2 separate regions of the Homo sapiens genome follow, and region 1 is linked to region 2. The links come from fine-mapping of genetic effects on gene expression. A gene starts in region 2. The other region holds a variant in brackets. All regions are shown on one strand. Distances are between the middles of the regions.

Region 1 (15,339 bases), 88 kb after region 2:
TGTGAACCACTGCATCGGGCCTGAAATCACATTTCTTATACTCAAATCTTTTCAAAATGAATGTTTTATTTGAAGTCCTGCTACTGTTATCTAAAAGTGAGTTCCTATCAGTTTATCTTTTCCTTTTACCTCTTTTCAATATCTAATTATTTAGGTTTATATTTTATTTACACCTAAGAGGTCTTAATCCGAGTACAAGTGAAGACATTTTAGAGTAAGATAGATTACAACCCACCTGAAGGAAACAGATAAAGTTATTCTGAGGTATCAAAAGTGAAAGAGGAAAAAAAAGATTATAACACCTGGATAAGATATTCAGCTCTGAGTTTTCTGGCAATGAAGACAAAAAGGAAACACATTAAATTACAAAGTTTTCATTTTATGAAAAAAAGAAAGAGGAATATAACTTCACGCCCAGAGGCAAAAATTTTCCTGGAATATACGCAATAATTCATCATGAGTTTTTTTCTGTCTAAATGAGACTAAGGAAAAAGAACCTTAGTTTTGTTTCAGGGAAAAAATGAATTACTTTTAGTTTTGACTACGTAATCACAGTTGAGTTATTTAACTCTTATCAGCATCAGTTTCATCTCTAACAATGAGGACAATGATATTTATCAGTGGACTGTAGTAAAGATTAGATTATGTCATTTATGTGGATGTACTTAGTAGACTGCCTTAGTTTTACAAAACCAAGAGAGATCACACTTTGTTTTGATCTTCTACAAAAGCAGAAGGCATGACATTAAACTGTTCTTTAATAAAATAAATTCTGTGAGGAGAGATATTTTGCCCTTTCCCCCTCTGCTTTATGAACATTTTACTGAATATAGGGACAAAACCTGGAGAATTTAGAATGGAGAAGTGTGGGCAGGTATAAGCTCTCAATTCAATTTATGCACATTTTTAAGTTAGTATTTGTTGTGTAAATCCTTTAACCTAATATATTTACCCAACCCAGTTGAGCTTTGTAGTCTGAAAAGTCAACCTAAAATATCCTATTTCTCTCTACGGCCACCTGCTCTTCACGTTATATCATTCTGAAATTAGTTGTTGAATATATTTTCTCGCAAAAAAAGTTAGGACTAAACATCACCTAATATTCCACTCATAGTTCAAGAAATACTCAATTGTAAGAGATCAATACACATTCCTGGAAATTGTCACACCACACCCTAACTCTTAACATGAGAGAAGATACTTTTAAGCTAATATTTTTGAGCTAACACTAATATAGAAAATAAAAACTCTCTGTGGTCATGCCCCAAATGTTTCTGAATTGTCAACCTAGAATTGTCCTACTTGCTTTTTCTGTTTAACACATATTTTGGAATTATGTAAATGAACTGGTGATCTTACTTCACATTACATGAACACATACAGCCTAATCAGAACTAAGTGACACTGCTAAAAAAAGTTAGAGCTAGGCTGGGTGCAGTGGCTCATGCCTGTAATCCCAGCACTTTGGGAGGCTGAGGCAGGTGGATTGCCTGAGGTCAGGAGTTTGAGACCAGTCTAGCCAACGTGGTGAAACCCCATCTCTACTAAAAATACAAAAAAATTAGCCAGGTGTGGTGGCATGCGCCTGTTAATCCCAGCTACTTGGGGGGCTGAGGCAGGGGAATTGCTTGAACCAGGGAGGTGGAGGTTGCGCTGAGCCGAAATAGCGCCACTGCACTCCAGCCTGGGTGACAGAGCAAGACTCCATCTCAAAACAAAACAAGACAAAACAAAACAAAACAAAACAAAACAACACAACATTAAAGCAAGAGCTGTCCAATGCAAAAAAGAAAATAAGAAACTTTAAAAAGTTCATTTGGTCTCTTTTTGAATCACTCATTTACACTGTCCAAATTTAACTGATTAAAACCAGACTGGTATCAGATAATTTTCCCAGGGTATTGACCAGGGTGAGACAAGCTAGCGGCCTTAGGTAAAGAAGCAGTGGCTCCCAGGGGCCGTCCATGTTCTTTGCCCACTCTGAGAGTAGGCACCTCCTTACATCATGTGTCCTAGATGCCTTGCTTGCCTCACCCTAGTCCCAGCCCTGATTTTCATTTTCAAAAAAAAATCAGAATTATTCTTAACCAATGTTATCTATTGACTATTATGAGGACATGATCCTCTGAACAATCAAGTGAATAAATCAATCCTGTTTCATCAGGTAAATGTTCAAGTGAATGGCCAAGCATTTCTAGGGGGTCACACCAGCTGTTTTCTTTCCATATATGCAATTTGCGGAGGCCTTTGCATGTGTATATATGATGTAAGTTGGTAGTAAATGGTTTCTTAGAAAATGATTAATAACATTAGATTTGTTTTACTAAGCTTTAATTTTTACTTTGCTTTAAAACAAAAAAAGTTGCTTTTCTTTAGATGTTTGGTATCATCAAAAGCTATACAATGTTAAATTATTAAAACATACTTGCCAAAATAAAGATATACTGTCAAATACATAAAAACTGACAATTATCTAAATATGCATCCATACAAATACCAGTAATAACATGTAGTAGTAGGCAATTAATGAGTAGTTTCATCTTGCTAGTGTTTAAATTTCTCCCTCCTTCCCTCCCCTCCTTCGCTTCCTTTCTTCCTTCTTCTTCTTCCTCTCCTTCCCTCTAACCCTCCCTCCCTCTTTCTCTTTCTTTCTTTTTTAAAAGATAGGGTTGCACTACATTGCTCAGGCTGGAGTGCAGTGGCTATTCACAGGTGAGATCAGAGTGCACTATAGTCTCAAACTCCTGTGCTCAAGTGATCCTCCTGCCTTAGCCTCCAGAGTACCTGGGACTACAGGTGTGTGACACTGTGCCCAGCTCTGCTAGAATTTAATTTGCATGCTTAAACGTATTTTCTTCTCAATCCACCACGCAAAGTTTTTTGGTTTTTATTTGGACTCATGAGTAATGTGATTCCAAGTGTTGGAACTGCTCATATATTTTTCAGTGTAGCACATCCCCTTAAAATCAAATGAGAATTGCCATTCTGAAAAAAAAATTAATATCTAGCTTTAAAAAAATGTAGTTGATATGGCTGAATGGTCATCTGTAGTTACTACTCTTAAATATTTAATTTCAAAAACACTTGCGAAAATTCCACATAGTGAATGAATCAGGTTTCCACAGTGAAGAAACAATTACTTGAAAGCAGAATCCTAGGACATAAGTGACAGCAGCGGTGATGGATAAGGTCTAGAATGTCCGAACTCAGAAGAAAGAATAAATATCTTCAGAGAAGCTTTTCCTAGCTCTGTAACCTGTTGTTAGATTGACTTACCTTCCTAAATGTTATCATTACAATCTAGTCCTGGGACACTTTCTCATCCTTTTCACCCATCACATAGAAGACACCTTTAAGAGAACTCACTCCAATGCCATTTCTCAGATACAGACAATCCTCCAATTCTTCTGACACCATCTCTAGGATACGTACCTTTGAACTGCTTCCAGTAATAGTTTCCAGTTCCCCTCTCTCAACAATATTCTCCCAATAATTTCTTCCCAACATCTGGTATACCTCTCCCAGACTAGTATCAGGATACTCATAAACCAATGATATGTTTTAAATGTTTTGTTTTCTGGTCGGGCGCGGTGGCTCACACCTGTAATCCCAGCACTTTGAGGATTGAGGCGGGCAGATCACTTGAGGTCAGGAGTTTAAGATCAGCCTGGCCAACCATGCCGAAACCCAGTCTCTATTAAAAACACAAAAGTTAGATGGCATGGTGGCATGCACCTGTAATCCCGGGTACTCAGGAGGTTAAGCCAAGAGATTCGCTTGAACTCGGAAGGCAGAGGTTGCCGTGAGCCGAGATCATGCCACTGCACTCCAGCCTGGGTGACAGAGCAAGATCCTGTCTCCAAAAAAAAAAAAAAAAAAGTTTCTTTTTCTATTAGAATAACAAAATGGTAAAAAGATGGCTAAGATGAGGCAGTGATAGTTCAGTAGAAAAAAGGCTTTGTGTTAAAAATACCAATGGTTGGTGACGATGCAGAGAAACTGGAACTCTCATTCATCGTAGAGGGGGAATGCAAAAGTATAGTAACTTTGGAAAATTTTGACAGTTGCTTATAAACTTAAACATACACCTGCCATACAATGCAGTAATCATGTTCCTGGGTATTTACCCAAGAGAAATGGAAACTTTTGTTTATATTAAAATGTGTACATTAATTGTTTACAGATATTTTATTCGGAGATGTCCTCAAATGGAAACAACTCAAATGTCCATAAACTGTGAATGAATTAACAAACTGGGTTACATCCATATAATGGCTTATTACTCAGCAATAAAAAGGAAACATATGACTAATGTAGATGTATGTACAGGCTCACACCTGTAATCCCAGCACTTTGGGAGGCTGATGCAGGCGGATCACTTGAGGTCAATATATTATACATCTGTATTGCAACAATATATATGAATTGCAAATGTATTATTGTAACTGAGAAAAGCCAGACTCAAAAGGCTATATACTGATAATTTCACTTTTATAGCATTTTGTAAAAGGTAAACAATAGTTACAGAAAATACACCCGTGGTTGATAGGGCTGGGGGTTGAGGAAAAGGGTCAGCTAAAAAGGGGTAATGAGGGAATTTTGTGGAGTAATAGAACTATTCTATATATTGATTGTGGTGGTGCTGACACAACTGTGTGCATTTGTCAAAAATCACAGACATGTCTGCTAAAAAAGGTTAATTTTATTCTTTGTAGATTATAACTCAATAAACCTTAAAGGAAAAAAACAAAACAAAACAGAACTTATCTCTTAGTTACTAACTGCCATGGGCAAGCCACTTAAAACTCATTTCTCCATCTATAAAATAGGAATTATATTTACTCTAAAAGAATTTTGGTAGGGAACAAATGAAGAAAAGAAAATAATTTTATGAACTTTAAAGCTCAACACAAATTATCTACACTACAGGCACTGGGCATACATTGATAAAGAAGACGAGAGGCACACTAAGGAAATTAACTGTCTAGTTGCAGAATAAGATAAAACAGATTATTATTAAATAATATGGGGAAATTCAGTGACAGATATCAACACAACAAGAAGGGGTTATTCTAGGAATAAGAATTAACTCTAAGAAGTATATCAAAAGTTGAATAAAAAAGGACAAAATTACAGTGAGACATAAATAAGAGAAGTCATTAATGAACATGCACAACTGGGATCCAATAATTTTAACCTGATAGCAGTTTTTAAAAAAGCCTAAAATGATTACAATTATGACAAAATAGGAAAAATACCTCACGATGATTTAGAAGTTGTTCTAAATCTAATGCCATTTGATTCTTCGTCTGTAGTAAAGCTGACTTTTCTTTATTTAAGTTGCTGAAAAAAAAAACCCCAGTTTTAAAAAGTCATTATGTTAGTATAAATATAGTTAATAAATGGTAAATATTAAAAGAATAAACATGAATCTGATGGTTTGAACTAAAGATAAATTTATAGTCCATAAATATTCCAGACCAGCCACTAAAATGTTTGGCCCAATGAATGGCCTATTTTGTCAGAAGATCTTTTTCTTTTCTTTTCCTTTCTTTTTTCTTTTCTTTCTTCCCTCTCCTCTTTTCTTTTCCTTTCTTTTTTCTTTTCTTTCTTCCCTCTCCTCTTTTCTTTCTCTTTCTCTTTTTTTTAAAGAGATGGAGTCTTGCTGTGTTGCCCAGGCTGGAGTGCAGTGGCTACTCACAGACATGGTAACAATGAACTACAGCCTCAAACTCCTGGGCTCAAGCAATCTTCCTGCTTCAGTCTCCTAAGTATCTGGGACTACAGGCATACATCACTGCACCCAGCTTTTCTTCTCTTAAGAATCCATTTGACAACGTAACTGAGATGCTGTCTGAGAATAATTTCCTGCCTAGTATAGGCATAAAATTAATGTTTTAAAGATGACTATTTACTACTAAAATGTAAAAAGATAAAGAAACTCACATAAAAGGTAAGAAGTACTATGTCAGCAAACTATTACAACACAAGATACTAGAAGACAAATTAAAACATCCTTAAAACTGAAAGTAATATTTTACAAACTAAATTATCAGGTATATAATTGAGTTAAGTAAGTGAATCAGGTATTTAGTCTGTGATAAACTTGAAAAAAGAACGTTTGTCTCCAAATTATTAGTTTGATTTTCAATTTCTGGCCTGGCATGGTGGCAATTATCTAATGAATGATTACAATAAAAAAGACAAAATTTGTGAGGGTAAAACTAACAAGAATTGTTTTAAATAGGTAAAAACATTTTTTTTTTTTTTGAGACGGAGTCTCGCTCTGTCACCCAGGCTGGAGTGCAGTGGCGCGATCTCGGCTCACTGCAACCTCTGCCTCCTGGGTTCAACTCATTTTTCTGCCTCAGCTGTCTGAGTGGCTGGGACTACAGGTGTGTGCCACCATGCCCGGCTAATTTTTGTATTTTTAGTAGAGATGGGGTTTCACCATGCTGGCCAGGCTGGTCTCGAATTCCTGACCTCACGTGATCTGCCCACCTCGGCCTCCCGAAGTGCTGGGATTATAGGCGTGAGCCACCGCACCTGGCCGGTAAAAACATTTTTAAAGTTCTACTTAAGTTCTACTTTAAGAAAATGGAGGCAGGGCACACTGGCTCATGCCTGTAATCCTAGCACTTTGGGAGATCGAGGTTGGAGAACTGCATGAGCCCAGGAGTTCGAGCCTAGTCTGGGCAACACAGAGAGACCCCCATCTCTTAAAAAAAAAATGTTAGCCAGGTGTGGAGACATGCACCTTTAGTCCCAGCTACATCAAAGCATGAGGTAGGAGGATCGCTCGAGCCCAGGAGTTTGAGGCTGCAGTGAGCTATGATGCTCCACTGTATTCCAGCCTGGGAGACAGAGTGAGGCTCTCTCAAAAAATAAATAAATAAATAAATAAATAAATAAATAAATAAATAAATAAATGAAAGCCACTAATCTTTAGAATAATATTTGGCAGACTTTTTTTTTTTTTTAATTCAAGAAACAGTAGTAGGCAATCTGCAGCAACTGCTAATTCAAAGGACTTAAGAGGGAAAGCCCACATTCTTCTCCTTCCAAGTAATCGAGAAGGAAGCATCATAGTTTGTCCTCTGAGGAGACGGACTAGATGCAATTTTGACTTCTGTTCCCAACTGTGCCACTGACTCAGACTCAAATGTGTGCTGTAAAGCATAACACATACCACCCCACTGAACCTCAGTTTTTATATCTGTAAAAGTAGAACATAATACTCATGTATGTCAAAGGACTATGTGAATGATTATATAAAGTGTTGAACTCATAAAACTATATAAATGTTATACAGTGTTACTAATTTAGATAAAAAAATAGGCATCAGAGTAAAACAGTAATTAAATGCCAATAAAGGTAAGCAGCTCAGCTGAAAAACAAACTGACTTTTAGAGTTAGGCGCCAGAGATCCCACAAGAGCTGAGGAGTTGAAAAGAACAAAACAGTATAAAGGAAACTGAGTGCCATGTTCTGCTAGAGTCTCCAAAGCATGGTAAGGATCACATGTTTCTCTAACTCTAGAATTCTAACCACCTCTTTAGCTGGAATCACTTTGAAGGCAAAATATTTTTCAAATTTAAATATCCAGTAAATAGGACTAGGAACTTTTAAGGAACATGTATGTGTCTATGTTCATATACATGTATACACTTATAACCACGGTATATAAGCATATACTCACATTCAGTGCATACACACACACACACACATACACACACACACACACACACTCACTCTCTGTTTCAAATACCAACTGGCTCTTCTAAAGAATATGTAGTGTAATCGGAATGGAATGTCGAGGTAATTAAAGGATTTTGACTGGATAATTCTTCACAAATGCTTTTATATTGTCGTGTTTTAACTTTTCAAAAATAAAGTATTCTATAATTAAATAGCAAAACAACCGTATATACATGGAATAAATGGTGGGGGGATAAACTGGCTTACAGAACAATTATGTTGCACCTGTAAGACATGAGTTTATTACAAACAATGTGGACTTCCCAGACAATATTGCTGTGATTACAATATCTGGGCATATATTTTGTCTTCTTTATAATATACTCGAACCACAGGGAGACAACCTTTAACATGTGGGTCTCTAAAACTGAATATGATGATTATTATATTCACTCTTCTTCTAGTATGTATTTACTCAATAGAATTTTAGTCTTCATAAGACATATTTCATAACAGTGGAAACTTACCTTTGAAAATACAAAGCTTCTATGAGTGACTCATAAAACAACTACAAAACAAATCTCCTTGTAAGCACATCTATCTTGAATGGTATATTACACCCATAATTGTTAAATTCACTGTTAATTATTACTTAGAAATTCATGTTTATGGCTCTGTTTCACCTGCAATACGAAAACATTCCTGATATATTGTTCCTTAACTTCCTGGATCAATACACTCTGGGATAGCTTTGTAAGGGAAGTTGGCAATGTAGTCTTATCTTTAACTACCAGTTAAGAATAAACTGAGAACTGACAACAGGCAAAGAAAATTATGCTAATTATTCTCTTTCCAAGCTTCCTTCCTTTCTGAAGTAGAGATCAAACTGTATTAC[A/G]CAGAGTGTCTCTTGTGGCTTGGTGGAAGAAAGTTAACAGTACTATTTTTATAATAAAGTATTACTTTAATGATAGGAGAATTTAAAGCAGTTAATAGTGACATCTCAAATGTTAGCTTTTAATGTGTTTATGATGATTTCATTTTAGTGAATATTTACTCTAGCCTTTCTAGAAATTGAATATATTGTATAAATAGTTGATTTTCAAGGGGTAAGTATGGTATAGTGGTATTGTTTAATTTTCTAAGAAAAGCATACAATTATTCAGTTCTTCAAAGAGTTTTTATTGAATTAGAAAAACATTTAAAAATCATCAATTGATGTAAATATTTTTACAACTAACATCAACACCTAGCAATGAGGAATAGGAATTTTCCTGTTTATGTTTTCTAAGGAACATAATAACTTGATAACGCTTTTGGATGGGCCATCATTAATGTTTAAATTTCAAATAAAAGACAAGGGGAGGGAAGTAACATTTACTGAGATTCTCCTACATGCCAAAGCTTTATATATGCCCCTAAATTTAATTTTCACAACTACCCCTTCGGGTTCATATTAATATCTAATTTTACAGACACATTTACCATAAGGAGAGAAACCAGCCTGATGTGTATTTAAAGCCCAGGATAATTCCACTCTAGGATTTGAAATGCCATTTGCTTCGAGTAGGGATGAAGGAATGTGGGTATACAGAACTGTGATCTATCCTACCATATCTGAATTACTGGCTGAGCTGACTTTTTAATGGCATTGTTACATCACAGCATTTCATTCATGTCACCAGGGTACACCTATAGCAACATCTCAAGTGTTGTAATTAAACTACTGAAAGTATTAATAACTTTTCACTTTAGAAGGTAGTTGCTTCAATTAAGAATAAGATTTCATATCCTGTGAATTATCAGTTCAGAATGTACTAAAATATCACACAATTAATTTATGAAACACAAGACAACATTAAAGGACTCATGTTTAGTACAAAATTTTTCTTGGTAATTAATTCCATAAATGACATGGCCTTTATGAAAACCGTTGCTGTTATTAAGGGAGTCTTAATTTTTGTTGAAATTCAACATATTTTGAGAAATGTTATTTCTCATTTTTAATATAATTTTCAACCAAAAATTTGTTACATGTATGGTAAGTACTAAGAATGGCAAACATTTATTGAACACTGTTGAATATAATGTTTAGGCACTATTATATCTGTGTATATTATGAAGATTATATCATTTATTCCTCAGAACAACCCTATCAATCGGGTGCTGTTAGGACCACTCTCATTATTTTTATTTTTATTTTTTTTTTGAGACAGAGTTTTGCTTTGTCACCCAGGCTGGAGTGCAGTTGCTCATTGCAACCTCCACCTCCCAGGCTCAACTCATCCTCCCACCTCAGCCTCCTGAGTAGCCAGGACTACAGAAGCGTGCCATCACACTGGCAAATTTTTCTGTATTTTTTGTAGAGACAAAACCAAACATGGTTTTGCCATGTTGTCCAGGCTGGTCTCGAACTCCTGGGCTCAGGCAATCTGTCTGCCTCGGCACCACTCTCATTTCACATATGAGGAAACTGGCTGTACTGTGCAATACCACAGCCATTGGCCACTAGGGCAATTAAAATTATCTTTAATTTTAATAAAATTAAAAATAAAATTAAAGATAATTTAAACAATTTAATTTTAATAGAATTAAAAATTTAGTTCCTCAGTAACAGTAGCCACATTTCAAATGCTCAGGTTGGGTGTGGTGGCTCATGCCTGTAATCCCAGCACTTTGGGAGGCCAAGGCCAGCGGATCATTTGAGGTCAGGAGTTCAAGAACACCCTGGCTAACAGGGTGAAACCTCATCTTTACTAAAAACACAAAAATTAGCCGGCTGTGGTGGTGGGTGCTTGTTATCCCAGCTACTCGGGAGGCTGAGACAGGAGAATCGCTTGAACCTGGGAGGTGGAGGTTGCAGTGAGCCGAGATCGCGCCATTGCACTCCAGTCTGGGTGACAAGAGTGAAACTCCGTCTCAAAGAAAAGAAAAGAAAAAAAAGAACAACAACAACAACAACAACAAAACCCCAAAACAAATGCTCAACATCTATATGTGGCTAGCTAGTGGCTACCATACTGGACAGCACTGATGTAGAATTTTTCTTTTTTTGGAGACGGAGTCTGGCTCTGTCGCCCAGGTTGGAGTGCAGTGGCGCAATCTCGGCTCACTGCAAGCTCTGCCTCCCAGGTTCACGCCATTCTCCTGCCTCAGCCTCCCGAGTAGCTGGGACTACAGGCGCCCGCCACTACGCCCGGCTAATTTTTGTATTTTTAGTAGAGACAGGGTTTCACCGTGTTAGCCAGGATGGTCTCGATCTCCTGACCTCGTGATCCGCCCGCCTCGGCCTCCCAAAGTGCTGGGATTACAGACTTGAGCTACCGTGCCCAGCCAGATATGGAATATTTTTATCATTATAGAAAGTTCTATTGGACAACAGAGGTATTAGAGAGTTTAAATTACTTGCCCTAACTCAAAACTAAGTACTGAGTTGAATTTGAAAACTTCCTTTTAAAATCTGTTTTTTAAAAAATTTTATTATAGAATATTTCAGAAGAGAAAATATGTAATAGCAAACCCTGATATATCTATCACCCCGCTTCAACAACGATCAACTCATTAAAGTGCTACTTTTAATCACTATGATACACTACTTTTTTGTTCTCTTCCTTAATTATTTTAGCTAAAGAAATATTATCCCTTATTCAGAATAGAACATAGAGGGGCAGTATAACCTAATGGTTAGGAGAATAGAATTAGCAAGCAGACAGATATAAAATTGAATTCTTACTCTATCACAATGTTGCATGTTCTTAGAGGACAAGTTGCTTAATTTCTCTATGGCTGAATTTGTTCATCTTTATAATTTTCTCCTACAGCTAGCTATTATTTTCTCTATATTAAACATTTTAAGCTACCTTAATTCTTAGTAAAATAAATAATCAAATAAATTTGTTTGGAGATAACTGTGAAAGGAGTAATTTTTTTCCTCAGGATTTTTATATACCTCCTCATCACAAGAAATAATGGTAAAATAAGACATATAAAAGATTCAAATTTTAAGGCCGGGCATGGTGTCTCATGCCTTTAATCCTAGCACTTCGGGAGGCCGAGGAGGGCAGATCATGAGGTCAGGAGTTCAAGACCAGCCTGACCAACATGGTGAAACCCTGTCTCCACTAAAAATACAAAAATTAGCTGGGCGTGGCAGCGTGTGCCTGTAATCCTAGCTACTCAGGAGGCTGAGGCAGGAGAATCACTTGAACCCGGGAGGCAGAGGTTATAGTGAGCAGAGATCACATCATTGCACTCCAGCCTGGGTGACAGTGAGACTCCGTTTCAAAAAAAAAAAAAAGATTCAAAATTTAATTTTAATTTTAATTTTTTTGAGACAGAGTCTCACTCTGTTGCCCAAGCTGGAGTGCAGTGAAATGATCTCAGCTCACTGCAACCTCCGTCTCCCCGGTTCAAGCGATTCTCCTGTCTCAGCCTCCAGAGTGGCTGGGACTACAGGCATGCATCACCATGCTCAGCTAACTTTTGTATTTGTAGTCGAGACAGGGTTTCACTATGTTGGCCAGGCTGGTCTAGAATTCCTGACCTCAGGTGATCTGCCTGCCTCAGCCTCCCAAAGTGCTGGGATTACAGGTGTGAGCCACTGCGCCTGGCCAAAAAATATTCAAATTTAACAGAAATATGTAACATAGGAGGAAAAAATTCTATTTGGGGTTCTTTCTTCAATTTCCCTAAGATAATCAGGTGCCCAGTGAATTGTGAAAGACATAATTTCTATTGTCCCCAAGAACTATTTATAGAACAATTAATTTATTATTGTAGGTTGTATACAGAATTTTTAACTTTAAAATTAATCTAGAAACAAACTTATTTATTTTGACACATTTAAGGTATAAATGTGCTCCTAAATTATTTAAACAAATCATAAAAAATTAAGAACAGGAATAAAGTTCTAGACCAATTATTTTGGTGGGGTAGAAATGAAAGAAGGTAATTACTGTGATTCATTAAAAATAACATTTATACTTTGGAATTAGTTACCAATAGGTTTATATTTTTGTTTGCATACTTTAAGAAACCTGGATTTAACAACCATCTTCTCCTTATTGTTTTCCAATTCCTTGATTTAACCATTTCTATTCCCACTTAATTCTCTGCTTTTACATTGATAATCAGTTAATAATTTACCCATAAAAATCTAAATTATTCTTATAATCTTGGAAATCTAGTAACTAAGCAAACTAACCATCTATCCACAAGTAAAACTGTTTCATTTACACATATCTTCATTCTTTAATTTCAGTTTAAAAAACCAAACTGGTCATAGCAAATTTTTTTTGGATAAGATCTCATACAGAAACAATTACAAATTAAGGAAGTGAAAGAAATTTATTTATTTACACTTAAAAGTTACTTTCATGTAAAAGGTCAGAAGAAAAGCCTAAAAATTCCTTGGAAAAATCAACATAAATCTAAGTAAATGTAAATTTTTTGTTGTTGTTGTTTAAAAAGCCATTTTAACGACACAAATGGCATCTGGTTTTATTCCTCCTCTCCCTCTGGTCAATCTACACCACACTAAAGAGTTCTAGGGAAACAAGGACCAATAGCGGTTGTGTCCTCTAGGATAGATGGAATGTTATGCTCATAAGTGTAACATTGTTATTTCCATGCTAAGACATCTGATCACAGGTGGAATGTGAACACCTGATGTGATGTGACCTTAGTTTTTCTAAGAAAAGTTTAATATTCATTACATTTAAGACACCTTCATTATTTAAATTTTCTGTTCATGATTTACAACCCAAATTCACCTACAGCAGCAATATGGTAACAATGTCTTTATTATTCAAATAAAAGATTTGTAGATGGTTTACCTGACATCTTTCTCAAGTTGTGCAATAGATTCCGTCAGTGAATCAATCTTAGAATCTCTCTGACGCACTGATTCAATGAGATACCTGTAAGGCTGTTGAGTCTGGTTTAATAGCGAATTGGCTCTGTCAAGCTAAAGAAACACAGGTTTCATTAAAATCTAGAAAATGTGACAACAAAATAAAATCATTCAAAATGCTCTAGCACAAATATAGTACAGAAATTCCTTTGACATGAATTATTCTGAAAAGCTTTTCCTGTGTAAATTTGAAGGTTTTAAGAGTGAATCAATATAGCTATTCTTAATAGCAACTATAAACAATAATTTTTTTTGTTTTCTTTTTTTTGAGACAGTCTCGCTCTGTCGCCCAGGCTAGAGTGCAGTGGCGCGATCTCGGCTCACTGCAACCTCCGCCTTCCAGGTTCAAGTGATTCTCCTGCCTCAGCTTTCCGAGTAGCTGGGATTACAGGTGCCTGCTACCATGCCCCACTAATTTTTGTAATTTTAGTAGAGATGGGGTTTCAGCATGTTGGCCAGGCTGGTCTTGAACTCCTGACCTCAGGTGATCGCCCACCTCAGCCTCCCAAAGTGCGGGGACTACGGGTGTGAGCCACCTCGCCTGGCTGAAAAAATTTTAAATAAAATATTAATAGCAATTTTGAGAATGCATAAACTTAAATTTTCTTAGTATTTGTCTTGGTCTGAAAAGCTATATGACATAAAATATATCTTTTTAAAATGGAAACACTTAGCTAAAAGTTAAACTCTTTTATTTCAGCTTTACTTCTACTAAAAATATTCACACCATAATTCAATAATTTTTTCATTTCTTCATATTCCCTTGTTTTAAAAATACATAATTTATATATCCAAATCATTATGTATAAATTTTTGACAAATGTGTTTTAAAATATAATGTAAAATTTACCATTTTAATCATGTGAAAAGTGTACAATTCAGTGGCATTAAGTACATTCATAATGTTGAATAGCTACCACTTCTATTTCCAGAACACTTCCATCAGCCCATATGGAAACTCTGTACCCATTAAACAAAAACTCCCCATTTTCTCCTCCCTCCTGGCCCTAGAAACCTGTATCTTACTTTCTGTCTCTGTGAATTTGCCTATTCCAGATACCTCACATAAGTGGAATAACACAATATTTGTCCTTTGCTGTCTGCTTATTTCACTTAGTGTGACGTTTTCAAAGTTCATCTATGTTGTATCATGTATCAGAACTTCATTCCTTTTAATGGTAAATAATAGTCCACTGTATGTTTATAGTACATTTTGTTTATCCATTGATCTCTTGATGAATACTTGGGTTTCCACTGTTTGGCTATTGTGAATAATGCTGCTATGAACATTGGTGGACAAATACTGTATATCTTGAGTTCTTGTTTCACTTCTGTTGGGTAGCTACCTAGAAGTGGAGTAGAACTGTTAGGTCATATGGTAATTCTATATTTAACTTTTTGAGGAACTGCAACGGTTCCACAGTGGTGATACCATTTTACATTCCTACCAGCAAGAAATTTGATTACAATTTCTCCACATCCTGGCCAAAGCACATTATTTCATGTGCATACTGGGCATTTGTATATCTTCTTTGGAGAGAAGTCTTCCCAAGTCTTTTGCTTGTATTTTAATTGTGATTTTTCTTGTTGTTGTTGCTGAGTTGTAGGAGTTCTCTATATATTCTTAATAATATAGTCTTATTAGATATGTAATTTGCAAATATTTTCTTCCATTTTGTGGGTTGTCTTTTCACTTTCTTGATAATCTTATTTATTTACTTACTTACTTATTT
Region 2 (15,339 bases):
CTACTCTGTCATCTCAGATTACTTAAAAAGTTCTATTTTGTTAAGACTATTATTTGCTTAGGTTCAATTTGCAACCCAAGTTAAAGAAGCACTTCCAATCTAAAAATCCAGAAGAAGTAATTAAACTCAGATGTAGGCTGTTTTCATTGCCTAAATTATTTTTAAAACATAAGGTAACTTGACATTTTAAAGCAATTACAATTATTTTCCAAAGAAATGCTAGGGTGCTTCACATTCTGCCTGTAAAACGACAATCATTTAAAGAGTATTTTATGTCATCAACTGTTGTGTGGTTTTTAAAGTCCTCTGATCAACGGTCCGAGAGGGAGGAGGAGGACAGAAAGAAAACCAAAAAAAGCTATTACATAAGAGAAGTAATTTAGAAAAACTGTCCTAACTGTTCTACCTGGGCCTTAAAGGGAAAGAAAAAAAAAAAACACCTTTGCTGGCTTCAGATACATTCATTTAAAAACAACAGGCGGGCAGGGTGGGGAGGATGCAATGAGAGAACAGGTAATTTTAAAAGGCATTGTCTAGAAATGAGAAATGAGGAGAAAACAACCTCAATGCTCTATGATTACCCAAGAACAGGTTTAGCCAGATGAACAAGTCTGCTACAAACCCTCCCCAAGGCATTTGAAAGACTATCAAACAAAACTTTATTAAACTGGATTACATGTTCTCATTCATTAGATGTTGAAGGCCACAATGTTTATGGTCAGGTGAAAAAGCTGATGCAAGGGACCCAAACCAGGTCTCGGTCTTCTTTTCAGTCTGTTTTTATTAGTACAAGCATTGTTAAGACAACCCACGATTAAATGTATTTGCCGGCAGGTCAAGTTCCTGAATCGCAGGTATAAGCATTCAGGGCACTAAACCCTGACGGGGTGAAAGGCTATTCAGATATGGGTTTGACTACATCCCTGCAATAAGTAGTTGATTACATCGTTATATGCAATTGTGCTCTTTTATTAGGAGACTTTAAACCCAGGAAAATGTGTTCCCTCCTATCTCTCAAGGACTTCCAAAAGTGAAAAAAACAATAGTTCAAATGTCTTTATATTTCCATTTATATTCTGTAAAAGGACATTTTGGTATTTCTACATGGAATATTTTCCTGGCACTTGTCATTTGTATTTTGAAAACTTTAAGTTGGAGTTTTTATAACATGCTTAATTCATTTGTGTTTAACTATAAAAATTTCTACCTTGGGCTGCCTATGAAGGATCCTTCCTCTTATGTAATCAGTTTGTCTCCATGCAAAAACCTCAGGCCAAAACAGCCCGCTCATTTCATAGATAAATACATAAGATGCCTTCTCCTTAAAAGCAGTTTCTCAAAAAGCCCTGGAATCTACAACATTGTCATCGGATTTTAGTAAGTAGTGTTTATCACTGGGATATCAAGCAATGCTTCCTAACATGCATACAAAATGTCTGCAACCATATTCCTCTTAGGGCTCTACCTCAGCACTGACCTTTGTTCAAAGGCTTTTACTTTTTAATGCAGCAGTTAGAGATAACTACTTCATTTATCAAAACTCAATTTCCATAGTAACATCTAGCCTCGGGAGATTCAAGTCCTCACACTAATCCAACAACCCATTCAAAGGAACTGTTGAATACTTTGGTTTCCATAGCAATGATGGAATAATACATTTTGCTAGGTCATTGCTTTTATTAGCAAACTTATTCTCTGAACTTTAGGTAAGGCTGTATTTATTGAGGGAAAAAAACACAATCACTTTATATAAGTTCTTTTCTTTAGGGCTGCTCTTTTAAGAAAATCGCAAATAGTAACCATCTATATATTTGACAATATTTGGAGTATTTGGGGGGCCTTTAAAGTATGCCACCTGGTTTCATCTTAAAATGGCTTCTGATATAATTTTAAAGTTTAAAAGCTCTTAAAAGTGCTGGTCGGGCGCGGTGGCTCACGCCTGTAATCCCAGCACTTTGGGAGGCCGAGGCAGGTGGATAAAGATGTCAGGAGTTGGAGACCAGCCTGGCCAACATGGTGAAACCCCATCTCTACTAGAGATACAAAAATCAACTGGGCATGGTGGTGGGGGCCTGTAATCCCAGCTACTCGGGAGGCTGAAGCAGGAGAATCGCTTGAACCTGGGAGGCAGAGGTTGCAGTGAACTGAGATCACACCACTGCACTACAGCCTGGCAACAGAGCAAGACTCCATCTCAAAAAAAGTGACTGCTATAGATTGAACAAAGCAAATACAAAAGTAGAGGAGCTAAACTTAAAAGCATATGTAAACAAGAATGAATGTAAGCTAGAATAAAGATCAAGTCTCTCACACATACCAAGTTTAGGCTGGGGCTTGTAACCCATTTCTGACCACCTGATTTTAACACTGCAATTTCAGCACTACCTTTCATCAAGCACAGAAAACATACTAAACACAGATATTTTAACCTAGAGGTGAAACTAACGTTTTCACCAATTATGCAGTACACTCCAAATGGGAAAGTTTTTAAGAGTTTAAAATGGCTTTCTCAGAGCAAAATTATTTGCTATGGAAGAAAATGAGTTTTGTTTTGTTTTTTTTCCTTCAAAACACTGCCAGTATAAGTTTTAAAATCCATTAGTAAACATCGCTGTTTACATTTTTGGGTAATCAACTCTGAGCGGTGACAGGGCAAGAAGGCCTTAGTGAGGGAACATCACCGGCCTTCCTGGAACCAGATTTCTCATGGAACTGAATTCTGAACCAAGCCTGTGCTGAAAAGGTAGGCTATTTAAAAAAAAAAAAAAAAACAAAGTTGACAGGAGAAGAGATCAAACACGTGTTAGCTTTTAAAAGGATGAATACCACTTACACTATTTACACAACTCACAGAATTAACAAGAAAATTACATACCAGTGTGAGTCCTCAGGTGAGCTTTTAAATGAGAAGACTTGGTATAAACTTTTGTGCAACCTAAAATAAAGGAGAACAGCATGTCATTTTGGAGATCCTTTTGAAATCTTTACATTTGATGATTCAGTGTTTAAAATCTGGCTTTAAAGAAGAAATCTCTCATGCTAGATGAGATTATTTGAAGCTTCAGTTTTAAAAGTTTTAAAGAGCCCTCCCCCATTACCTTATTAAAGGCATGAAGTGATTTGTTTTATGTATCACTTTAACAGGAAAGAATACAGATAATCAAGCCAAACTACAAATGGAAAATTTGTGTTTATATTCCAGTAGGTGCTGTACTTCCGTATTAAGAGCTGCTATATGTTTTTTTAAAAATTTTAATGGCTCTAGAGCTGACAGTACTAAGCCATTATCCAAGATGACTGTAATTTTCTGTACTCCCACATTTCTTCTTTTTTCATTTAGCACGTCATGCCATATCATGTATCAGAGTCAATAAATTTTGCCATGTATTAATCATAAACTAGCTTTCCCAGTAACTTGTAAATATATTCCATGTATTGTCTTCAACTTATACTTTGGGCCATGTATGTCATTCAAAACTGAGCATATGCTCACGTGCCATCAAAACCATTCTTAAATCTGTCTTGTAGACAGTCTTGTACCTAACATCAAGCTAGCTGCCTGCAACCTCCACTTCACCACCAAACCTTATTTTCCCCCACCCTACTTTAATCTCTTTCTGGGGCACTTAATTTAGAATTAAAAACTGCAATTTATTCAATTGCCATTTTAAAGTAACTCTGGCCTAACTCGAAATAATATGTATTAGAAATTCAAATCTGTTTTAATATTAAAGAAAAAAAAATCCAAGGGAACTTTTTCCAGAATATTCTAGCCAAGTTTTTGATGCATAACATAAGCAACAGACAACTAACTGGTTTACATACCAAAGTTAAAGCACAGAGATAGGATAGAGAAAAAAAAAAAGGTAATTTTTTTTTTTTTTACTGTCAAGTACAACTTTCCTATTTAAAGCCATGAGGTTGAAAAGGGCACGCGCGTGCACACACGCACACGCGCGCGCACACAGACACACACACACACACACTACATCTATTGATGCTTCAACCAGGTAAGAGCACATACCAGGGTAATCGCAGTAGTGGATGCGTCGTTTCTCCAAATCGGGGTTACTCCTTCTATTGTATCTGACAGGTTGGATGTTTTGTGAGTTAACTGGCAGGGTGGTGGGTAAATTTGGATTGTGAATTGCCAGTTTAGAAGCAATTGTAGCAGCATAGGATGGAGGTGGGGTTAAATTCTGGAGCATCTCTGCTTGTCTATCTGGACTTCCAGGCTCTGAGCTTGGTGGTGACGGGGGAAAGTAAGTGGCCTGTTGTGGAAGAAACTGACTTGGCATTGTGTATGTGCAAGGGGGCATGCCCTGGAATTGTTTCACTGCAGTCTGCGGAACAGCAGAGGTGTGTGTGTTAAGGCCTGCCATGGCAGCTGACATAGAAACATTAAGAGTGTCCATTGCTGCTGTCTGATTTGTAGAACTGGGCATATCTAGATCCGGTGTATTCAGTAGCTGGTACAGGTGGCCCTGCTGGGTAGGGACAGAAAGATGAAGATCTGGTGTAGGAAGTTCTTGTTTGATGAAAATATTGTTCACCTCTGGAGCTGCGGTCTGGTGTGAGCTGAATATACTGGTGAACTCAGGGAGGGCCTGGGTCGGGGCCGGAGGAGGGGCAGTCGTTTCACTCTGGTGGCTGAAAATGGCAACAGGTTCTGTCTTGATGTGTGTTACGCACGGTCTCTGGGATTTGTAGAGGCCAGTTCTCAGGTGAGTGATGTCAGGGAGGAAGACGTTCATGTTGATACTGTAAGGTAACCCTTCAGTGTCAGTGAAGAACTGGTCTACGACTGAGGCACTGTCTCGTCTATACTTTTTATGCTCTGGAATTATAGGAACTGGAGGAAGCTGAGGTGTCAGATACTTCTCCATTTCACATCTTGTCTAAAAAAGAAGAGATATAAAATGCATAATCCACCTGATTCACCATCTCGGGAAGAACGAACAATCGGCGCCTACTAAAAATTCCCCCAATCCCTGTGTAAGGTACTAGGGCAAACTCCTCAGTGTTGCTTATAAACATATCAGGCTTATTTTGTCGATTGTGTAATAACTGGTTGACCAAAACCTTATGAAACTCTGTGTAACTGGTAAAACTGCTCCCCCAATCACCCCCAAAAGTGAAAGACGCAAATCAAGAATAAAAAAGAAAGCAAACTTAAAACATTCCATTCTGATGCAATAACAAGGTACCATCACCCCTGTACAAGCAGGATTCCCTGCCCCATTACACAGTTAAGTTTGCAATTAGAGTACAGTATTGAAATGTTGCCAAACTACCTCAATTCTGTTTAAGTCACAAACATTAAAAAGCGTGGTTTTTTTTAATAGAAAAAACGATGCAAACCTTTAAAATATTGCACAGGTTTCTTTTCTTGACTAGATACTTCAAAAGTAATATAAAAATATTATTTGGCTATTTCAGTGTCTTTTCTTGTTTACAGTTCAATGAGAAATTAAACACAACGTTCTAAGCAAAACCTTGTATCCACTGAAACAAAACAATTTCACATTCAATATTTGATCTAAATGTTGATTTTCATCAGCAGATCCTGTAATTGGTTAATATGATAATGAAATGTTCCTATTCATATCCCTATCTAAAACAGATCTTTAATTACCTAGGGGAAAATCACTCCCTTGGTAGAGTGCTGCTAAGGAGCCCGTGGGTGGGGAGGCTGCTGTATCCCTAGCACAGTCATCAGCAAAACATTTATCATGTCCTTCTCAGTGGGCCAATGCTACATTCCCCCCTACTCTGTAAAAAGCTCAGTCATCCCTTATCTTCTTAGTGCCTCCAGAGCAGAAAATTGACAAACTGAAATAACCAAATACTTTTCAAACGGTGATCTCTTTTCTAGGCTATAAACCAGCTTGTAACAAGTCGCCTCAAGCCTTTTCCAGCTATCTTCTCTCCTAGTATAACTTAAGCCTACATTTTTTAACACTGAAAAGGAAATTTCGAAAGATAAGAAAACCAACTAGATGGAATGGCGCATATATTAGCTGTGGCACCTTAACAGGTAAATAAGACAGTCATTTTCTGCTACTACTTCATTTCAAATGCGTTTCATCTCGGACCTTGGTGTGGATGCGGACGGGGTTTCCCGGATAGACATGATTTAAAAATAAAAATTAACGCTCTCATCATGTGAGTCACATCTCTGACAAACGCCACTGCCCTCTCACAGCAAGACCCTGGCAGACCCCACGGAGTAGGCGCTGGGTAGCAAATATACGACACGCCAAAGAGCTACTAAATGAAGTGTCTTGAAATAAACTGAACTAAACCCTTTCGTGCACTGCGCTCCCGCGGCGGTTAGTGGTTTCTGATTTTAGCTCTTCCAGCTGTTTGCATGTGGGTATGTTTCCAATTTTTTTTTCCTTGGGACAGGCTAAAAGTCCCGGGAAGTTTTTTCTGGGCTATATGACTCCCTGCGTGGGCGAAAGAAACAGGCGGTTGCTCTAATTCGGCTGCTGGGCAAGTGTAAAAGCCAACTGCCAGCTTTCAACGCGGCTCCGGGAGGAAATTTACGTGCACACGAAGAAAACAACACCCCCGGTCTTTTTTTTTTTTTTTTTTTTTTAAGGAAAAATAAGCGCTCCGACACAACCTTAGCTTTCCTAACTCTCATTTTCCAAACGCGGCCCGCAATCGCTTCTAAAGCAGGTTGAGCCACCGGGTATGAAACCTTGGGGAACCTCTCCCCAGCACCCCAATTTGCGTTTCTACTTAACCCGAGACGATGGGGATGGGGGGGAGGGCTCCAATGCCTTGGCATTGGAGAGCGGTACAGGCGAAGGCGTAATTTAAGTAAAACTGAGCGTAAGGTACAAGGTTTCGTCCCTCAAGTGTAAGAAAAACAACTAAGGTGCGCGTGAGCACCCAGTTCCCTCCCTCTTACCTCTCCCAGGCCGACCCGCCGGGGCAGATTCCCCTCCATCCTTCCCACCCCCGGCCCCCCCCCCCATTTACTCTCAGCGAAACGCGGGGCCCCGGCCAGGCGTGCAGGGCGGGGCTGCCCACCCAGCACCGGCTCCGGTGCGCCCCGACGCACGCCCCAGCCTGGAGCGGCCCCTGTCGCCCGCGAGTCGCAGCAACGGGACACGCCCGAGCCCGGGAGTGCTGCGGTGGGAGGGGAGCGGCTCTTCCTACCTGGACCAGGTCCTCTGGAGGCAGCCGCGGGCCGGTGGCGGGCGGCTGGGCCGGCTGCGGGGCCTGCGCGGGCGCGGGCTGCGCCTGCGGGCGGTGGTGCGCGTGCTTCAGCTCCTCGCCGGGGAAGAGCGCCGCGTCGCGGGCCGGATTCGCGGCGCCCAGCACCGGCTTGAGCTGCGCGAACACCGGCTCGTCCTGCGGCGCCGGCGGCTGGGGCACGGGTCCCAGGCGGGCGCTCATGCTCAGCACCCTTGTAGCCATGGGCACTCGGGGGCGCAGCTCCAGGCGCGGGTCGGGCGCACTTCCCACCTCGCCCACGCTGGCTTGGGTCGGCGAGCTCAGCGCGGGGCTGCCGGCGGAGGAGGGGAGGTTTCGGGTGGACTCCTCAGACAGCGGCAGGCAGTTTTCGAAGGCGCGCACGAAAAGCAAAACTCTTCCGCTCTTCCACACGTAAACGCCAACGTCCTCCGGGCGGCCACTTTCTCCCGCCCCGCCCCACCGTGCTCTCAGGCTCTCCGGAGCCCGCTCCCGCCACCGCCGACCTCCGCGAGAGAACCGCGAGCGCACGTACCTGCCCCGCGACTACTGACACTTGACGCCCGCCTCTATTTCACCCAACTCCGGGGGGGCGGGGCCCGATCGCCTGATTGGCAGCGCCGCCGCGAATCCCGAGGCCCCGAGGCCGGCCAGGCCTGAGCGGCCAGCCTATGAGCAGGGAGAGAGGCAGCCAGGGCCCCGCCTCCGTCGGCCCGACCGCACCCCTCTCGGGCCACGAGCTTCGCGCGCAGGGCGGCCGCGCAGTTTGTACACAACTTCTCTGACAGATTGGGCTGGCGGAGCCGGGGGCGGAGGGAAGTAGCGGAGCGGGTGGAATCTGGGAAGAGGGGGAATTAGGGTGGAGACGCGGAGGGAGATCTCTTCGCACTGTTCTCTGCCAGGATTAGGAAGAAAAAGAGTATTGCACGTCTTAGGTGTTGTGCAAGGACCTGAAACTCAAAAGCTGAAACCCAGAAGGCAGCTAGGTAGGGGCGCTGAGGCTTTTAGAGATTTGTCTAATGAGTGTGTACTTTTAAATATCCAAAATGTACTTCTCTTTAGCAGAAAACTAGGGGCGGTGTGATAAACAAATTTAAAACAGCTCTTGTCCCTGTGTATCTTTAGCAGTGAGTGTATCCGTTTAACAAGGCAAATTCAGAATGCCTGAATAAAAGATTTGATGGCAAGCGTTTTTTCAGATCCTTGCATAAAAGCCTGGGTTTTTCCCACTCCTTCAGGATTTTAATTGCTAGACGTTTTCCCACACATTTCTACTTCCCATCCGTGTGTGGGGAGGAGGGCTTGGGCCATATGAATTTTGAAGTTTCTAATATTTAAGCCGTGTTGATTCTAGCCGAAGCATGGAATCTAATTTAAGCACGACTAGCTCAAACGTGTATTTAAATAGACATTACATCTTTGACTTATTTTTGCTAGCACTGTATGTTCAAAAAATGGACTTTAATATTTACAAAGCAGAAACCTAGCACATTTACCTCACATTGTGGCACCTTTTCCTACGAAGAGACAATCAAAAAGCCGCAAACATAGACACAGAGCAGCTCTGAAAACTGGGAATCCAAATTTGTTGGAAAGTAATAGCCAAATATATTACCATCCATTTACTATGTTGTTATAATGGGAGGGTGAATTTTTGCCAGCAATCACCTAAGGAAACCACTTCCCTTAATCCTTAATGTTCTTGTACATGATTTTATCTGGCTTATTGGGAGGACGGAACAATAAACTGCAATAAAAATGCCTGTGATATTACTACAAATGTACATATGTTGACACACAATATACCATTAGACAGTTTTACATATACCACAGCCTATTCATCACTTCAGAGTAAAACAGCTTTAAAAAAAAGTCTTGGATAAAAACGTTCACTTCAAAGAGTGTATCTATCAAAGGTATGGATCTCATTTTCAATGGGTAGAAAATTAATATGCACATAAAGAAATGTATTTATTATTAGAAAATATAAAATTATGCTGTAAACTGGGTTTTTCTCCTTTTCCTTCTCTTCCTGTTGACACATGATTCATTTTTATAGCTGTGATCACTGCCTTCAGAGAATGGCTGATGACTACTTTCATGTTATCAAAGTATTATTTAATAAGTGCTTTTGCAAGTTTTTCTCTAACCAAGCAGCCCCATGCTGTCCATCTTCATCTTTAAAAAGCTGTCCTGCTTTTCTCTAATGTAAAACCTATCATGTAATTAATTAGCTTAGAAACAGATTATAGAATTAGGATGGGATTTAATGTAACTCTTTTAAAAAATTGAGCTTTGAAAGATTTTTAGTTACTTAATTCTGATAACATCAAACCTAAATGTGATGTAGATAATTCTTAATAGAACTTTTGTGCTCTTGTAACTTTAAGCTAAATCTAACTTAGATTTAATACATTCGGTAGCTGTATCTTAATGTGCTTTTAAACCTATCTAGACCTTTCCTTTTGTCTTTTTACGAGAGCTTCAGTGGCCCGGTCTTTCAACCTAAGTTTTCACTGCAATAAAATCCATGTATTTTACTGGAAATGCTTCTATAATTTCACACCACTTTTTAACATGCTTTCATTTACAAAAGCTTTTTCATTGCAAAAAAAAAACCATACAACTAAGTTTTTAATATTTTTAGTCTTGTTAATTTTTCATATTTCCACTTTTCATAATATAGATATGAAGCTAGCGTTGGGGTTCTTATAGTAACTGAATATATTCCTTTTTGCTCCAATACAGTAGCAGGTTTTAAAATTCCATTTTGGGCATAAAGATTCATGAAATAGGGCTGCCACTTTTAAGTAATAGTTTCTCTGAAATGCCCTGCTCTGCAGTCTCACAGAAAATAACTAGCTTAGCACTGTACAATAGTACGGAAATTGGAAAGTAATCCTTTTCGGAGACATTTGCCATGTGATTCTGAACATATAAAGAACATGTTCGACCAAGTTTCCTTGCTGTTGCTTTTAACATAAATGCTACAGCTGCAAACCTGTTTCACCGACTTAGTAAAAAGGGTTAAAACTTGATAAATATTTTTCAAATGTTCCAGGTTCTACATTGGCTTGAAGCCAGACAGTGTGAATGGACAGATCCTCAATTACTTTGAACTTTCTAGTTCTTTGCATTCCTTCCCGCTTAGTAGTGCTGTACCATTAGGGAAGATAGGAGAAAACAAAAAACAAATGTCAGGTTTCAGAAATCAATTAGTGGCCTGGCAGTGGTGTGTTAACTGAACTGTGCCAAAACAGGGGATTCTGAGGGAATGAAATAAAAATGTTGAGTAGTCAAGTTAGGTAGGAGGGTAAGCATAGAAGCAGTGTGCATGCTTAAGTCCTTAGTCACTGGGCAACACAGATTTAGTCTTAGAATAAACCATAAGTGTCACTATCTTTACGGGAATAAATACGGATGAATATGCGGGGGCTGAACAGGCATTCAATGTTGGGGGAGGGGGTTTGAAGGAGGCAGTGGAAAAAAATAGATAAATAGCTTCTGAATGATGAGATGAGGGAAATATGAAGCTATCACTAGGGCAATGTTCACACAACGACACGGCAAAAGGAATATCTAAATTCAGTTGTTTGGCAAATCTAAATTCAGTTGTTTGGCAAAAACGTCACAGCTTGAAATTAAGAGGTATAGAGTATCACAGCCAACAAAACTGTATTCACTTTGAGTAGAAAAATATTCATAGAATATTTATTTCTGCCAAATCAGTATCAAATTGCCAAGTGATCTTGGGCCACAGAAAAAAGAACAAGAATAAAAATGAAAAATAAAGCTTTATACGGGAGCACACTCTTCTCTAGGGTAAGATTATTTAATTAAAGTGACTTTTTGGTAGTCATTGATTGCACACCCCTGTTAGAATCTGTATCAGTGAAAACTTAAAACTATTGTAATTATTGTCCTCTCCAACATTTCACATCTGTAGTCTTTGTATTTTTTCATTAATGGCAACCACCTAAAGCCACACATCAGAAAAAAAGTCATTAAGGAAATAGCCTGATAAATAGAAGCTTCAACTGAGATTAGTTGGAATTTAAAGCATTTTGACTCAAAAGATTACGAGACAAGAGAGAAGATGCTCTGTTCATTGCTTTTGTGATGAAAAAATATGCAGTTTAAATAAGACTAAATACTTCTATTTATATTAATTAAAATTATGTCTTAAGACAACAATTTAATATTTTATTTTTGTAATGTCTCTTGCCTCCAGTTCTTAAGAAATTACATTTTATATTTCAGTTTGGATTTTTAAATGTGTTCTTCTTAAAATATTTCATAAAACTCCCTTTATGCACTTATTCCTAAGGGTACTATAATTTATCTAGCCTAATTTTAAAACTCTAATAATATCCAAAAAAACAGGAGAGTTTTACCTTTTGGAGAGACTGGGATTGCTTTTTCCACCTTGTTAGTATAATAAGTAGACAAAAGTGACATAAATATAAATGCCTGGAACCAAGTTATAGGCCAAGCGTATTGTAGCTTAAACTGCACAGTATTTAAATTCTGACTCGAAACATGATAGGCAAGGTTAAAAGAAAGGTCTGAGCTAAAGTGGTTACACCAAACAATCTTTTAGAACATTAGGGAGGTCTCATCATCAGCATCACAATGGGCAGTGTTTTGAGCCGATTGCTGTTCATGTTATGACAAAAGCTGTAATGTACCAGGCTGTGGGGAACACCCTGTGAATGCTCAAATGAACCGTGCATGGGTCACACGGAAATACTCTTTTAGATGTTGATTTATAGATGAAGTGTGTAAAAGTAGTGCTAAAAGCAATGTGAGTTCTTCATGCCTTAACTTCCATACACTGTTGATGGTTGTGTAAACTTTAAAACTTTGGGGAAGGACAATTTGACAATAAGTATGAAAAAGGCTAAAATGTAAATAACTTTGAAAATGATAGATAATTCCTCTTCTAGGAAAGGTGTATGTGTATATATATACACACACACACATATATATACACATATATATATATATATACACACACACATATATCTTTATATATAAAATTGGGCCAGGCATGGTGGCTCACACCTATAATCCCAGCCCTTTGGGAGACTAAGATGGGAGGATTGCTTGAGGCCAGGAGCTGGAGACCAGCTTGAGCAACATAGTGAGACCCTATCTCTACAAAAATGTTTAATATTAACCAGGCATGGTGATGTATGCCGGTAGTCCCAGCTACTTGGAAGGCTGAGGCAGGAGGATTACTTGAGCCCAGGAGTTCAAGGTTACTGTGAGCTATGATCACACCACTGCACTCCAGCCTGGGTGACAGAGCAAGACCCTGTCTCAAATAATAATAATTAATTTAAATTAAAATAAAATTGGAAATAACCTAGGTTAGGTGTCCAACATTAGGGGAGTAGTTAAGCAATACATCCATACCATGGCTACTGTTATGCCACCAAAAAGTTGAGTAGTTGGAAAAAAAGGGGAAAAATTCTTATTATTAAGGAACATTTAGTGACATGGGAAAACATTCATGCTATGTATAGTCAAAGAAAGGGGTTTTATAAATATGTACCCACAAAGATGAAAAGAAAATACCAAACATGGATGTATTTTGGTGGCCCTCGTTAGATGGTTATATTATAGGTTACTGCTGGGCGCGGTGGCTCACGCCTGTAATCCCAACACTTTGGGAGGCCAACACGGGTAGATCACCTGAGGTCAAGAGTTCGAGACCAGCCTGGCCAACATGGGGAAACCCTGTCCCTACTAAAAGTAAAAAAATTAGCCGGGCATGGTGACGTGCGCCTGTAATCCCAGCTACTCAGGCGCCTGAGACAGGAGAATCACTTGAGCCCGGGAGGCAGAGGTTGCGGTGAGCTGAGATTGCACCACTGCATTCCATCCTGGGTGACAGAGCAAGACTCCATCTCAAAAAAAAAAAAAAAAAAATTATGGGTCATTATTCACTTCTGGATACTTTTCAGTATTTTCTAGATTTTCTACAATTGCTATGTATTCCATTTGTAATCAGAATAAATAGTTTAAATGAAAACATAAATAAATATTACCTTTCTACAGCTAAGGGTTAGTTGGAACTGAAGTAGTTGATGATCAAATGATTTTCCATTTGAAGCCAGTAAAGTGTACCTACAACTTGCCAATACTCTGTACTGGGAAAACATGTAAACTTTCTTAACCAAGCTGCTAGATTTTCAGGAATTTCACTGCAGAATGAAGAAGCTGAAGAGAGATTACAAAGGGGAGTTTGAAGTTCAAAAGGGATAATATAGGGAATGTCTGAAATATAAATATGCTTTAATTCATTTCCTAAGTGATCAGCAAGACTTCCTCTACACTTATTTTTACTCTGTTATTTTGGGTATCTCATTTTACTTTGTTGCTCTGTTTTCTCATATTAAATAAAATAGGCTGCTTACACTGATTTGACAAAATGCATAGACTCTTAAAACCAGGTAAAGTTTATATGCATCTTTAAAGAGGTGTTTGTGTTTGGGTTTTTAAATTCTAAAATACTCACATAGAAGATTTGGCATGAAATAGTTTCAAATGGGATGTTATCTTTCTTTCTCTCTCGCTTTTTTTTTTTTTTTTTTTGAGACAGGGTCTTGCTGTGTTGCTCAGGCTGCAGTGCAGTGACACAAACATGGCTCACTGCAGCTCCAGCCTCCTGGGTTCAAGTGATCCTCCCACCTCAGTTTCTCCAGTAGGTGGGACCACAGGCCCCACCACGTCAAGCTAAATTTTTTTATTTTTTGTGGAAACGGGGTTTCTCTGTGTGGCCCAGGATGGTCTCGAACTCCTGAGCTCAAGCAATCCTCCTGCCTCAGCCTCTCAAAGTTCTGAGATTACAGGCTTGAGCCACCATGCCCAGCTCATACTATTGTTTCTCTAAGAGCCTTGTTCTCTTTTCCGGAACATAAAGTTGTTCAAAAGTTATTCCCAAATTTGGTTACTGAGATTTCAGAAATTAAAGTGGAAGGAGGGTGGGGATGGTAGTCTACAAACTTGATATTTAAAACATATTCTAGAGGCGCAGCAAGATGGCTCACACCTATTATCCCAATGCTTTGAAAGGCTGAAGTGGGAGGATTGCTTAAAGCCAGGAGTTCAAGACCAGCCTATGCAACATAGCAAGACCCCAGTCTCTGCAACGAGTAAAAAGAAGAAACTAGCCAGGTGTGGTGGCACACGCCTGTAGTCCCAGCTACTTGGGAAGCTGAGGCAAGAAGATTGCTTGAACTCAAGAGTTTGAGGTTACAGTGAGCCATGATTGTGCCACTGCATTCCAGCCTGGGCAACAGAGCAAGACCCTGTCTCAAAAATAAAACATTTTCTATTAAATATTCAGTAGACGGCTGAATTTCTAAGGACCCGTTCCCACCCCCCAGCTCCCCACTGTCGTGACCACAACTCACACATAAAACATACATATACACCAGTCTTTATTCTAAATTATTCGGAGCATTGGTGCCTGCAAACATTTTTTGAACACTCTGTTCAACAGTGCTCTATGCAGAGCACTGTTGCAGGTCTTAGAAATAAAAAGATGAGCTGGGCACGGTGGCTCACGCCTGTAATCCCAGCACTTTGGGAGGCTGAGGTGGGTGAATCACAAGGTCCGGAGATCGAAACCATCCTGGCTAACACCGTGAAACCCCGTCTCTACTAAAAATACAAAAAATTAGCCGGGCGTGGTGATGGGCGCCTGTAATCCCAGCTACTCGGGAGGCTAAGGCAGGAGAATGGCGTGAACCCGGGAGGCGGAGCTTGCAGTGAGCTGAGATCACGCCAGTGCACTCCAGCCTGGGCGGCAGAGAGAGACTCCATCTCAGAAAAAAAAAAAAAAAGAAATACAAGGATGAATAAGATATAGTCCCTGCCCTAAGCACTGTAAGCATCGCCTGATAGGTAACCTTGCTTCTCAGATGATAGGTAACCTTGCTTCTCAGATATGTTTCATTATTTTCCTCAGTGAGGAAGGAAGTTCAAACTCCTCAGCCTGGGACCTTGTGCTGACCCCAGCCTATCTTCCCAACTTCGTATCTCACTATCCCTCCCCTGCTCTTCTCCCATGAACCTTAGGCTCTAACCGTTTGGATTATTTGTAATTTCCCAAAAGCCCCTTCG

Which allele goes with the higher level. Alleles are on the strand shown, and positions count from the first base shown. SD is a standard deviation of normalised expression in the study named.
For the expression in monocytes after R848 of the gene that starts at base 7,754 in region 2, allele G in region 1 goes with a higher level than allele A (moderate effect, 0.62 SD a copy in Quach 2016).

What was found.
Region 1: its variant is fine-mapped to the expression of KLF5 in monocytes after R848 (Quach 2016, PIP 0.95).

What each region holds. Positions count from the first base shown.
Region 1 is chr13:72,963,595-72,978,933 of GRCh38, reverse strand. PIBF1 (progesterone immunomodulatory binding factor 1) reads right to left here. Exons shown (of 18, transcript NM_006346.4): 15 at 13,530-13,660; 16 at 5,259-5,343. Among named protein-coding and RNA genes, the nearest start is that of KLF5, 88 kb to the left of the region's middle. The variant A/G (reference allele first, on the strand shown) is at 8,594.
Region 2 is chr13:73,051,420-73,066,758 of GRCh38, reverse strand. It overlaps KLF5 (KLF transcription factor 5), which reads right to left and starts at 7,754. Exons shown (of 4, transcript NM_001730.5): 1 at 7,171-7,754; 2 at 4,025-4,898; 3 at 2,876-2,935. The coding sequence starts at 7,431. RefSeq lists silencers at 6,991-7,080, 7,401-8,010.